Linked DNA regions of Homo sapiens. The protein of the gene in region 1 interacts with the protein of each later gene in a pairwise test. Each region holds a gene or a part of one and is shown in the gene's direction. Other genes may lie near its edges. The genes, in order: STAT5A and AGAP2.

Region 1 (7,284 bases):
ATTGCTGATCTGACAGGAAGCAGAGTTCAGGCTGTAATGCGAGCAATAGGCAGCAGCTGTAAATACAGATGAAGCGTCACTCACTTGCTCACCGCCGCTCACCTCCTGCTGTGTGGTCCAGTTCCTAACAGACCACCGACCTGTACCAGTCCATGGCCCAGGGGTTTGGGACCCCTGTGTTACAGTCAAAAGATACGGTAGATTGGAAGTGCTTCATAAGACTGGGTATGATGGCTCACACCTGTAATCACAGCACTTTGGGAGGCCGAGGCGGGTGGATCACCTGAGGTCGGGAGTTCGAGACCAGCCTGACCAACGTGGAGAAACCCCGCCTCTACTAAAAATACAAAATTAGCCGAGCGTGATGGCACATGCCTGTAATCCCAACTACTCAGGAGGCTGAGGAAGGAGAATCGCTTGAACCCGGGAGGTGGAGGTTGCAGTGAGCTGAGATCACACCATTGCACCTTTAGCCTAGGCAACAAGAGCAAAACTCCATCTCAAAAAGAAAAAAAAAAAAAAGAGAAAGTGCCTCATAAACTGTGGGTTTTTAATTCGCTCCAAACCAGATATGAAGATCTTGGAGGGGAAGATGAGGATGAGGAACAGAGATATAGAGGTGTCTGGGGATAGTTCCTGAGGCTCCCTGGGAAAAGCTGAGGCAGAGGCTGAAGGAGAGGAAGGGCTGGGCATAGCATGGGGCTGGCATGGCTGGAGCAGAGGATGGCGCTGGAGGCTACTGTTGGATTCTTTCAGAAAACATATGACCGCTGCCCCCTGGAGCTGGTCCGCTGCATCCGGCACATTCTGTACAATGAACAGAGGCTGGTCCGAGAAGCCAACAATGTGAGTGTCCCTTGGGGATGGGGAGGAGTGTTGAGAAGTCCCTCCATATGCCTTTCTCTCCAGAAACAACTGTGTTTATATAAAACAGCAGCACGAGGAGAGCACCAAGAAGATGAGGGACGTGGGCAAGTGTAAGAGGTGGCAGCATTGCACGCCGGGGTGGAGTGACCCCCTGGATCCAGTCCCTGGCTCTACCACTTACTAGCTGTGTGACTTGAGCAAGTTGCTTAATCTCTCTGAGCCTCTGTTCCTGTTTTTTTTTCTTTTTTCTTTTTTCTTTTTTTTGAGACGGATTCTTGCTCTGTCACCCAGGCTGCAGTGCAGTGGCGTGATCTCGGCTCACTGCAAGCTCTGCCTTCCAGGTTCACACCATTCTCCTGCCTCAGCCTCCCGAGTAGCTGGGGCTACAGGCGCCCACCACCATGCCCGGTTAATTTTTTGTATTTTTAGCAGAGATGGGGTTTCACTGTGTTAGCCAGGATGGTCTCAACCTGACCTCGTGATCCGCCCACCTCGGCCTCCCAAAGTACTGGGGTTACAGGCGTGAGCCACCACGCTTGGCGCCTACTGTTTTTTCCCCCCCGAGATGCAGTCTTGCTCTGTTGCCCAGGCTGGAGTGCAGTGATGTGATCTCTGCTCACTGCAACCTCTGCCTCCCAGGTTCAAGCAATTCTCTTGCCTCAGCCTCCCGAGTAGCTGGGATTACAGGTGCCCACCACCATGCCCGGCTAATTTTTTTTGTATTTTTAGTAGAGACGTGGTTTCACTATGTTGGCCAGGCTGGTCTTGAACTCCTGACCTCATGATCCACCCGCCTCGGCCTCCCAAAGTGTTGGGATTACAGGCGTGAGCCACCGTGCCCGGCCTGTTCCTACTCTTGTAAAATGGAGATAGCAATCATACCTATCTGTGTCAGAAGAACTAACACAGGCAGGCTCAGAGAAGTGAGGCCCAGGGAGGGGTAACAGGGACACATCTCCCCAGTTCTGAAATAATAAAGGCACTGGGCATCTACATGGACAATGGCACAGTGCTGTACTATCTGCAATAGAGCAAAATGAATTTCACAACATGACGTGACAGAAATCTTAGAACAGTGACCGGAGCACAGGTCATATTTATTATTTCTTTCTTTATTTGTTTGTTTGTTTATTTATTTTTGAGACTGAGTCTCACTCTATCATCTAGGCTGGAGTGCAGTGGCGTGATCTCGGCTCACTGCAACCTCCACCCCTTGGGTTCAAGAGATTCTCATGCCTCAGCCTCCCAAGTAGCTAGGATTACAGGGGCCCACCACCATGCCCGGCTAATTTTTGTATTTTTAGTAGAGACAGGGTTTCACCCTGTTGGCCAGGCTGGTCTCGAATTCCTGACTTCAAGTGATCCACCTGCCTCGGCCTCCCGAAGTGCTGGGATTACAGGCATGAGCCACCACGCCCGGCCTATTACGTATTTATTGTTGTGGACATGGATTTCAGGATTTACTCAGTAGACATTTATTGAGGTCTTACTGTGTGTCCGATGCTGGGCTATCATCAGAGAAACACATAAAGGCCTGGTTCTTGCCTGGAAGGAATTCTGGCAGTGATGGATTCTCTAGAGATGAGCTGAGTGCTAAGGGGGCCTAGGTGGAAAAAGCACCCAACTCAGATTGGGGCAGGCTGGCAGGGGAGCGTCCTGTGGACAGGCATGTCTGAGCTACAGTGGAGAAAGGCAGGAGAGGAGGGATGAATTTTCTAATGAAAAGACAGCAGCTGCGAGAGCAGGAGGGCATGAATCTTCTTATCACATTGGAAGACTTGTAAGTGGTCAGTGTAACTGGGGAGAAGGAACCAAGTGGGGAGTTGCCATGGATAAAAATAGATAGAGAGGGCCAGGCGTGGTGGCTCACATCTGTAATCCCAGCACTTTGGGAGGCCAAGGTGGGCGGATCACCTGACGTCAGAAGTTCGAGACCAGCCTGGCCAACATGGTGAAACCCAGTCTCTACTAAAAAATACAAAAATTAGCTAGGCGTGGTGGCGGGCGCCTGTAATCCTAGCTACTCGGGCGGCTGAGGCAGGAGAATTGCTTGAACCCAGGAGGGGGATGTTGCAGTGAGCTGAGATTGCACCACTTCACTCCAGCCTGGGCAACAGAGCGAGACTCTGTATAAAAAAAAAAAAAATAGGGGTTAGAAACCAGGTCACAAAGGGTCTTCCAGCACAGCCCCTGTGTCCCTGACTTGTTGCCATCACAGAGCTATCTGCAAACCTAAAAATGACTTCAGCCTCATTGACAAATCCATGTCCATGGTGCTGGTGCTGTCATGGTCTGGGAGCTCATTCCTTCCTCCAACCATACAACTGTTCCTGAACACCCCTGGCATTCTAGGGCTTGGGGATTCTGTAGTTCACAGGAAAGGCAAGGTCCTAGCCCTTGGGAACCTCACATCCTTGTGCAGGGAGACAGACAGAAACATGTAAGCAAATACAAGAACAACACACTTTTAGATAGGACTACTGTGAATTGGCTCGTCAGAGATGACCCCTCTGCAATGGTACCAGTTAAAGTGCTTTGCCTCAGGAGGATCTGATGCCAGAATGTTCCAGACTGTTGGAACAATAAGTGCAAGGGCCCCAGGGCAGGAACATGCCTGTGTGTTCAAGGAACAGAAACAGAAAGCACACATTCCCAGCGAGCTGGGGTTGGAGGTAGGCAGGGCTATGGCCAGCAGACACCATGGGAAGGGGTTTGGATTTTATTCTGAGAACAGTTCATTGGAAAGCCTCTGAGGACTTGTTCCTCTTCATCCATGTGCTCCCTCCCTTTGTGACCTGGTTTCTACCCCTCTCTCTCTATTTTTTTTTTTTTTGAAACGGAGTCTCGCTGTGTTGCCAAGGCTAGAGTGCAGTGGCGCAATCTCGGCTCACTGCAACATCCCCCTCCTGGGTTCAAGCGATTCTCCTGAATGTGCTGAAGGAATGGCTGGATCCAAGGGGAGCTTGTTGATGCCTCCCCTCTAACTTCATTTCGGGGTCTCCAGGATGCCTGTGAGAGTTTCGGCCTCTTCCCTCTTCCTTCAGTCACAAGGGGGTCTTAAGTGAGATGGTGTGTGTTCACACAGCCCTGTTCCTCCCTATGTCCCTAGGATCTACTGCAGTCCATGGTATTGAGTCAGCAAATAAATGTAGAGCGAGGGGTCATCATCATTAGTGGGAAAACCCAGGTGACACCTGGGACGTGTTGAGTTCTAGTCCCTGGGAGGAAATTAGATGGACCCTGTTTGGAATACTCTAGTGGAGGGCAGCTCTGACATAGATATTTGGACTTTGAAGGTGTTACTATCTGCCGTTATCTGCCAGGTCACCTGTTTCTCCTTTCTCTTTCCCTTTTCTATCCCAATTCTGGCAAATGACTCCTTCTGATGCAAATGATCCTTCCTTCTTGCCCTAGTTTCCCTTCTTACCCTAGTTTGGGGTTTGGGGTTTGGGGTCTGTAGTATTGGTGTTTCCTAATGCCTGTGGTCTTCTCCCATCCTCTCTTCCCCGAGTTATTTCCATTCCATCTGTCTCCAGTGCAGCTCTCCGGCTGGGATCCTGGTTGACGCCATGTCCCAGAAGCACCTTCAGATCAACCAGACATTTGAGGAGCTGCGACTGGTCACGCAGGACACAGAGAATGAGCTGAAGAAACTGCAGCAGACTCAGGAGTACTTCATCATCCAGTACCAGGAGAGCCTGAGGATCCAAGGTGAGGCGCGGTGGAGGCAGTGTGCATCCGGAGGGTGGGAGTGAGGAACATTCTATGGACTCCTAGAGGGTAGAGCTGGGTCAGTGTCCATCTCCTCAGCACTTTGCCCAAAGCCTGGTAGAAGCAATGGCTCCCGGTGATTGAGCCCCTGCCGTGGGTCACACTTGGCACACATTATTTAATTCAACCCTCTCAACAAGCCTATGAAGTGAACAGTTGTGTTATCCCCCCTTTTGCAGATGGTAAAAGTGAGGTTCAAAGAGAACAAGTAACTTGGCCTAGGTTGCCTGTAAATTACAGAACTGGATCTCAACTAGAGATATATCATAAAACTCCTGTACTTTATTAACCAGTATTCTCTCCTTAATGGTATGTATTCTGTAAATATCGACACAAATAGGTAAATATGAACAGTGCTCCCTAACCAGAGGGAGGACTTGGATTGGAAGTCTTCTGGTTGAACCAGGCTGGGAGAGGTGGAACTTCCAAAGTGGGCCTTCTTGAGCCTCACGGATAGGATGTGGGCCTGGGGGAAGGGGTGACAGTAGAAAATTCTCCTGTATCCTAGGTCTGTAGTTCGCCAATGGCTCCCATGATAAAGATGTGGGGAAATTAAAAAATCAAATTAGCTTGAAAGGAACTATCCCCAGGTACAATTTGAGGAGTCATGGGACATGGCCCATCTATTAATATGTCCCATTCCAGACTGACCCCAGAAATGTAACACCTCATCTTAGTGAGAACAAGGGGTGTCAAACTGCTTTTTCCTTTACTCTTTTTAATCTGATTTCTTAAGGTAGACCTTAGGTCATTGATTTTAGACCTTTCTTCTTTTCTTTTCTTTCTTTTTCTTTTCTTTTTTTTGAGACAATCTTGCTCTGTCGCCCAGGCTGGAGCACAGTGGCATGATTTCGGCTCACTGCAGCCTCTGCTTCCCAGCTTCAAGAAATTCTTGTGCCTCAGTCTCCCGCATAGCTGGGACTACAGGTGCAGGCCACCACGCCCAGCTGATTTTTTTAGAATTCTATTGTAGCTATTTAAGCTCTCTTCCTAACCCTGCACTGTCAGTGCTTTGTGTACACTGAGACCAGCACAATGCCTGAATATTGCAGCTATTATGTAAATACTTGCAGGATAATTCTAAATGTTTGTTTGTTTGTTTGTTTATTTATTATTGCCCAGGCTGGAGTGCAGTGGCACGATCTCATCTCACTGCGACCTCTGCCTCTCAGGTTCAAACTATTCTCATGCCTCAGCCTCCTCAGTAGCTGGGACTACAGACATGCACCACCATGCCTGGCTAATTTTTTTTTTTTGTAGTTTTAGTAGATACAGGGTTGTGCCGTGTTGTCCAGGCTGGTTGCAACCTCTAGCCTCGAGTGATCTGCCTGCCTCGGCCTCCCAAAGTGCTAGGATTATAGGCGTGAGCCACGGTGCCCAGCCAATACTGACAGGATAATTCTAAGAGAATTTCCCCTCATCTGAATCTATCCCAGACTGGCCCTAGAAGAAGGGCAGCTCCTTCTGAGAATGGAAACGGAAGATTTTGGGCGGTTATTCCTACCCAAGTCCTTAGACTGTCGACAGTATTTCTGATCCCGTGCCTGGCTTTTCTGTTTCCTGTGCATGGTGGCGGATTAGGTTTGGATTCAGGTTGGGTTTGGATCTATCATGCAGTGTCTTCTCAGTCCCATTTGTCAAGTTCACTCAGCAGAAACACAGACTATTGATCTGCTTTTGCCAGGGAAGGCTCAGCTGCCTCCAGTGGAGTAGGGAAATTGCTTCCCGTCTCCCTGGCCTCCTTCCTAAAAGCTTCTGCAAATTTCCAGGAGAGCCCTAAGTGGGTCCCTTGCATAGGAAGGCTGGGCCCAGGTGTTGGGATCACCACCACCCTCCCTGTGGCTGGGCAGGATACCCGAGGTAGCCGTGCAGACACCTCGGATCTGTCCGTGCCTGGATGATCCTCTTCCTGCTCGATACCTGCAGTGAGATTGGAGCCATATTTCTGAGTTCTAGCTCTGGGCTGTTCCTGGCTACATAGAGTTGCTTTTGTCTGTCCCAGCTTGTGCATCCCATGGGTCAGGGCTGGGGTCAGAGTGACGTGGCCCTCAGGGGCCAGCCAGGAGCTCGACCAAGACATGCTGGTGCGCGCATCTTCTGACTCAGCTCAAGCAAGGACGCTGGGCTGTTGAGAAGGTGATGGGAAGGGATTAATAGTCCCAGTGTGGTGGAGACGGGCTGTCGCTGGGAGGGTGGGGTGGGCCTGCGGTGGTGGTTGTAACTGTGGACATGTTTACTTTCTTAGCCTGGGTTATTGATACACAGGCGCCCTTGTGTTCCACATCCCCTGTGTCTTACGTATTTCATAATGGATACTTTTTTTTTTTTGAGATGGAGTCTTGCTCTGTTGCCTTGGCTGGAGTGCAGTGGTGCTCTCGGCTCACTGCAACCTTTAACCCCGGGTTCAAGCAATTCTCCTGCCTCAGCCTCCTAAGTAGCTGGGATTACAGGCATGCGCCACCATGCCCAGCTAATTTTTGTATTTTTAGTAGAGACAGGGTCTTGCCATGTTGGCCAGGCTGGTCTCGAACTCTTGACCTCAAGTGATCTGCCTGTCTCAGCCTCCCAAAGTGCTGGGATTACAGGCGTAAGCCACCGAGCCTGGCACATGATGGATACTTTTTTTTTTTTTTTTTTAGACAGAGT
Region 2 (4,330 bases), on another chromosome or scaffold:
CCCCACCGCCACCAGCCCCAGGGCCCTCTCATCTCAGCCCTGCGCCCCAGCTTCTGTCCCCTTCCCCCGTGTTCACTCAGATCCTGACCCTCCCTTCTTCTCCCAGAGGTCCAGCTCCTCGCTGGTCTTGATAACCCATCCCTGCTGCCCCTGCTCTCTGCCGGGTGCTCAGACCCAGGTTCCAGATCTGCCTACTCTCATGGCTCTTGGCTTCTGTTCCACTCTGCTCCGGGGCCACTGACTTTAGTTCTGCTTTCTCTCCCCATCTGTCTGTCCTGCTTTGTCTCTGGCACTCTGTCACTATCTCTCTCCATCTCTCCATCTACCTGTCTTTTTCTCCTTCTTTCTTGGTCTCTCTTTCTCTGTTCTGCTCTCCATTCTATCTCTATCTCCTTCGCTTCGGGAAACCAGCCAAGCGCAAAATGTGGAAACTAAAATCCTTTGGTAGTTTAAGAAATATTTATAAAGCAGGTAACAAGTGGGGAGCCGGGAGGGGCGCTCAGCTGGGGTGCAGAAGGGTGGGGGTGCCCCCGCCTTCCCCTGCATGTGCTCGGGCTTCCTGCTGCCCCCCACCCTCTGCTTTCCCTACCCCCACTGCCCCACTCCCAGGGGCTCGGGATGGACATCAGGGAGGACGGTCTTGGGAAAGGCAGCCCCTGCTTGAACTCTGTCCCTTAATGACCCCATCCCATCCCCCACTCAGAGGAAAACTTTGAGTTCCTGATCGTGTCCAGCACGGGTCAGACGTGGCACTTTGAGGCAGCCAGTTTTGAGGAGCGGGATGCCTGGGTCCAGGCCATCGAGAGTCAGATCCTAGCCAGTCTGCAATGCTGTGAGAGCAGCAAGGTCAAGGTAAGAGTTTGAGGTGGAGTGGAGGACTGGCCGCAGGAACTGACCCTGGTGCTGACGGCCATTGGCAACGACACGGCCGAAGTCGTGTGAGAGGAGAGCAGAGGTGTCTGAGAAGGAGGTGGGGCTTGGAGGCAGAGTCAGTGCCAACCCAAACCCTCTCTGCAGCTGCGCACAGACAGCCAAAGCGAGGCCGTGGCCATCCAGGCGATCCGGAACGCCAAGGGGAATTCAATCTGCGTGGACTGCGGGGCCCCCAGTGAGTGCCAGGAGGCAGCGGAGGGGCTAGGGAGTGTAGTGAATGCCGGGGTGCCTGTGCTGCCCGGCTGGGAGCCGACCTCTACGCTCCTTCCGCAGACCCCACGTGGGCCAGCTTGAACCTGGGCGCCCTCATCTGCATCGAGTGTTCTGGCATCCACCGCAACCTGGGCACACACCTGTCCCGCGTTCGCTCGCTGGACTTGGACGACTGGCCACGGGAGCTGACCCTGGTGCTGACGGCTATTGGCAACGACACGGCCAACCGCGTGTGGGAAAGCGACACGCGAGGCCGTGCCAAGCCCTCGCGGGACTCTTCGCGGTAAGCGTGAGGGAACAGAGCGGGGGGAGGGTTGCTGAGGGTGTGCGAACCTGAGACGGTCCCGTGGGTAGGGGCAGAAGTCCTGGCTGGGGGTCCCTAGAGCCTTTTCCGTTGATCCCTGGTCTTGCAGGGAGGAGCGCGAGTCGTGGATTCGCGCCAAGTACGAGCAGCTACTGTTCCTGGCGCCGCTGAGCACCTCGGAGGAGCCGCTGGGCCGCCAGCTGTGGGCCGCCGTGCAGGCCCAGGACGTGGCTACCGTTCTCCTGCTTTTGGCCCATGCGCGACACGGGCCGCTCGACACCAGCGTAGAGGACCCACAGCTGCGCTCCCCACTCCACCTGGCGGCCGAGCTCGCCCACGTCGTCATCACGCAACTGCTGCTGTGGGTACGTGAGCTGGGGGGAGGAAAGGGGGTCTTTGAGGCTTCATCTCGGAAAACGCCTGGCGCGGGAAAGCCCGAAATTCCCAGAGGGACCCCGGAAGTAGGCTTGGCCATGTGGGGGAGGCGGCGCCGGGTGTGGGCGCCCTGGGGACGCGCGGTCACGCGGCCGTTTCCGCCCTCTAGTACGGCGCGGACGTGGCGGCCCGTGACGCCCAGGGCCGCACGGCGCTGTTCTACGCCCGCCAGGCTGGAAGCCAGCTGTGCGCCGACATCCTTCTCCAGCACGGCTGCCCGGGTGAGGGCGGCAGCGCGGCCACCACGCCCAGCGCGGCCACCACGCCCAGCATCACCGCCACGCCCAGCCCCCGCCGCCGGAGCAGCGCCGCTAGCGTGGGCCGCGCCGACGCCCCGGTTGCGCTGGTATAGTTGCCCAGCGGGAGAGACACCCCCATCCCCACGCGGGCCGGGCACGACCACACCGGGCGGACCGCTGGACAGACGCACCCACTCACCTCTCCGATCCGCACCCCGCCCCACGGGAGCACTTCCTACCCCCACGAGGGCACAGCCCCCACGCCTTCCAGAAGACACAAACTCACCTCCCTCTCCCCAACGAGGCATGGAGACCCCAGCTCAACACGCCCCCTCTCCATTGTTTCCACACTCGGATTGCTCTGGGTCTACCCGCTCGGGGTTCGCGGAAGGGGAGGTCCCCAGCGGTACGGGCTCCTAGGCGCTTGGACATGCCCGCTTGTGCCCCCTAGGGGCGGAAAGAAGACCCGGTCCTGCCCGAGCTCAACAATCCCAGGGCGGGAGCCCATACCCAGGCTGGCTCCTGGGGCGACGCCACGCCAGAGGGAGGGTTTAGTACATGGGAGGGCTAGCCCCGGGACTTGGGGCCAATACGGAAACCCTACCCCTTCCATGCTCATCTCACTGCCCAGTGAAGGGGGCAAGGGCAGCGAGGGGCAGGACCCCTGCTGCTCATGGGGGTGGGGGTTCCCAACCCTTTCCGTGAAAGGGACCGTGAGTAGTGGAAACCAGGACGTCCCCTACACCTACCCATGGGTGGAAGCTAAAGAGTCCGGGGGGAACCAAGAGCCTGGGTCCCTCCCACTACTATCTTGGGAGGGAGAAGGGATGGAGCAGGAGCGGGCTAAGAGGGCTGCGGGGGCCTTGTAATTTATTGCTTTGTTCCCCAACATGGGGATGGGGGCGGGCAGGGGCGTGGGGAGGGCGTTTTGGGGTAGGGGAAGCCCAGGGTGGGCAGGGGGTGGGTTGGGGTGGGGGTGCTCTCGGGTTGTGTCTGTGACCGTGACTGCGTACCTGTGACTGTGCAGCGCCCGTGGTGATCTGGGGTAGGGGGCACCCCTACAGTGGGACCCCTCCCCCATTATTCTTTCTGTCCAGCCCCTCCCTCCCACTGGAGCAGCTCCAGAGCCATTCCTCACCCCCGTGACCTCTCCCAGCCAGGGCTGAGAGGATTCGAGGTGGCTGGGAGGGTTTCCAGGCCCCCTGCCCCTTCCCCACAAACTGGGTGATAGGGCGGACTTACCTGGCCCAGCCCTGCCTCCCTCAGCCAACCCAGCCCTTGGGCTGTCTGTGTCAGTGGTTTCCGGTCTTTTTTTTTTTTTTTTTTTCTGGCTAAAATAGTTTGCAAAGGACCAGGTAATTGGGGAGGGGAGAGAGGTGGGGGCAAGGGGGAAATGCCCCCCCATCTCCTTGGAGGCAGTGGTGTGAATCTTCTTCAACAGCAATTAAAGAGGAAGTGATTTTGTCTAGGGGGTGAGCTGCTGGTCTGTTCTTGGAGGCAGGTCAGGGCATGGCCTTGGTCAAGATGGGGTACTGGGGTTGGACAGGGACAGGCAGAGGTGCCTCCCACTGGGGCTGGTGGCAGGACAGTACCCATGGGCATGGAGGTGGTTCCATCATGTACAACAGTTCTGGGTTCATGTAGTGGAGGACGTGGGCAGGTTGGAGTCAGTGGGGACCCTGGGAACAGAGAAGGCACTGACTCTTAAGATGATGCCAGTCCTGGGAGAGTTGGGATATGGTACTTAGAGGAGAGGACAGGCCCATGGAGAGGGGTGGGAAGATGGGACAGCTTTGTTTAAGAGCAGGAACTTTGGAGACAGATCTGATTTTGAAACCTGCCCCTCCACTGCACAGCTAGGGGACCTTGGTGGCATCTGTTTATCTGTATTCTGAACAGTATCTGTTCAGAGGGCACCTGAAAGGCGCTCCAGCTCTGAGGAGGGCTGCCCCGAGCCAGCCTGCTCACCGTGAGCACTAGGTACCAGAGTAGAACATAGAGTAGGGGTTCCTCCCCTGGCCTCGTCAGGGGGTGTTCCAGAGGGAAGGGGTGGGAGACCTCCTGGGAAAGATTTCCCAGCTAGCTGCAGAGGTCCCTGGTGTCCACAAACTCAGTGTCAGCTGATGCAGGCATTTATCCACCTCCGTGCCATCAAAGGGACCACCAAGGCCACAGCGGCCTGAAGCCGGTGCTGCCTCCATGAGCT

Evidence for each region.
Region 2: the proteins of STAT5A (region 1) and AGAP2 interact in binary tests that used the Homo sapiens proteins (3 or more experiments, as listed by UniProt).

Annotation. Positions count from the first base shown.
Region 1 is NC_000017.11:42,291,216-42,298,499, forward strand, and holds part of STAT5A (signal transducer and activator of transcription 5A), read left to right. Parts: intron 1-756; coding exon 757-846; intron 847-4,403; coding exon 4,404-4,578; intron 4,579-7,284. UniProt on the Homo sapiens protein: Carries out a dual function: signal transduction and activation of transcription. Mediates cellular responses to the cytokine KITLG/SCF and other growth factors. Mediates cellular responses to ERBB4.
Region 2 is NC_000012.12:57,724,459-57,728,788, reverse strand, and holds the end of AGAP2 (arf-GAP with GTPase, ANK repeat and PH domain-containing protein 2), read left to right. Parts: intron 1-411; coding exon 412-471; exon of another isoform or gene 472-703; coding exon 704-852; exon of another isoform or gene 853-1,017; coding exon 1,018-1,108; exon of another isoform or gene 1,109-1,206; coding exon 1,207-1,429; exon of another isoform or gene 1,430-1,559; coding exon 1,560-1,815; exon of another isoform or gene 1,816-1,824; intron 1,825-1,994; coding exon 1,995-2,237; 3' UTR 2,238-3,592; downstream 3,593-4,330. UniProt on the Homo sapiens protein: GTPase-activating protein (GAP) for ARF1 and ARF5, which also shows strong GTPase activity. Isoform 1 participates in the prevention of neuronal apoptosis by enhancing PI3 kinase activity.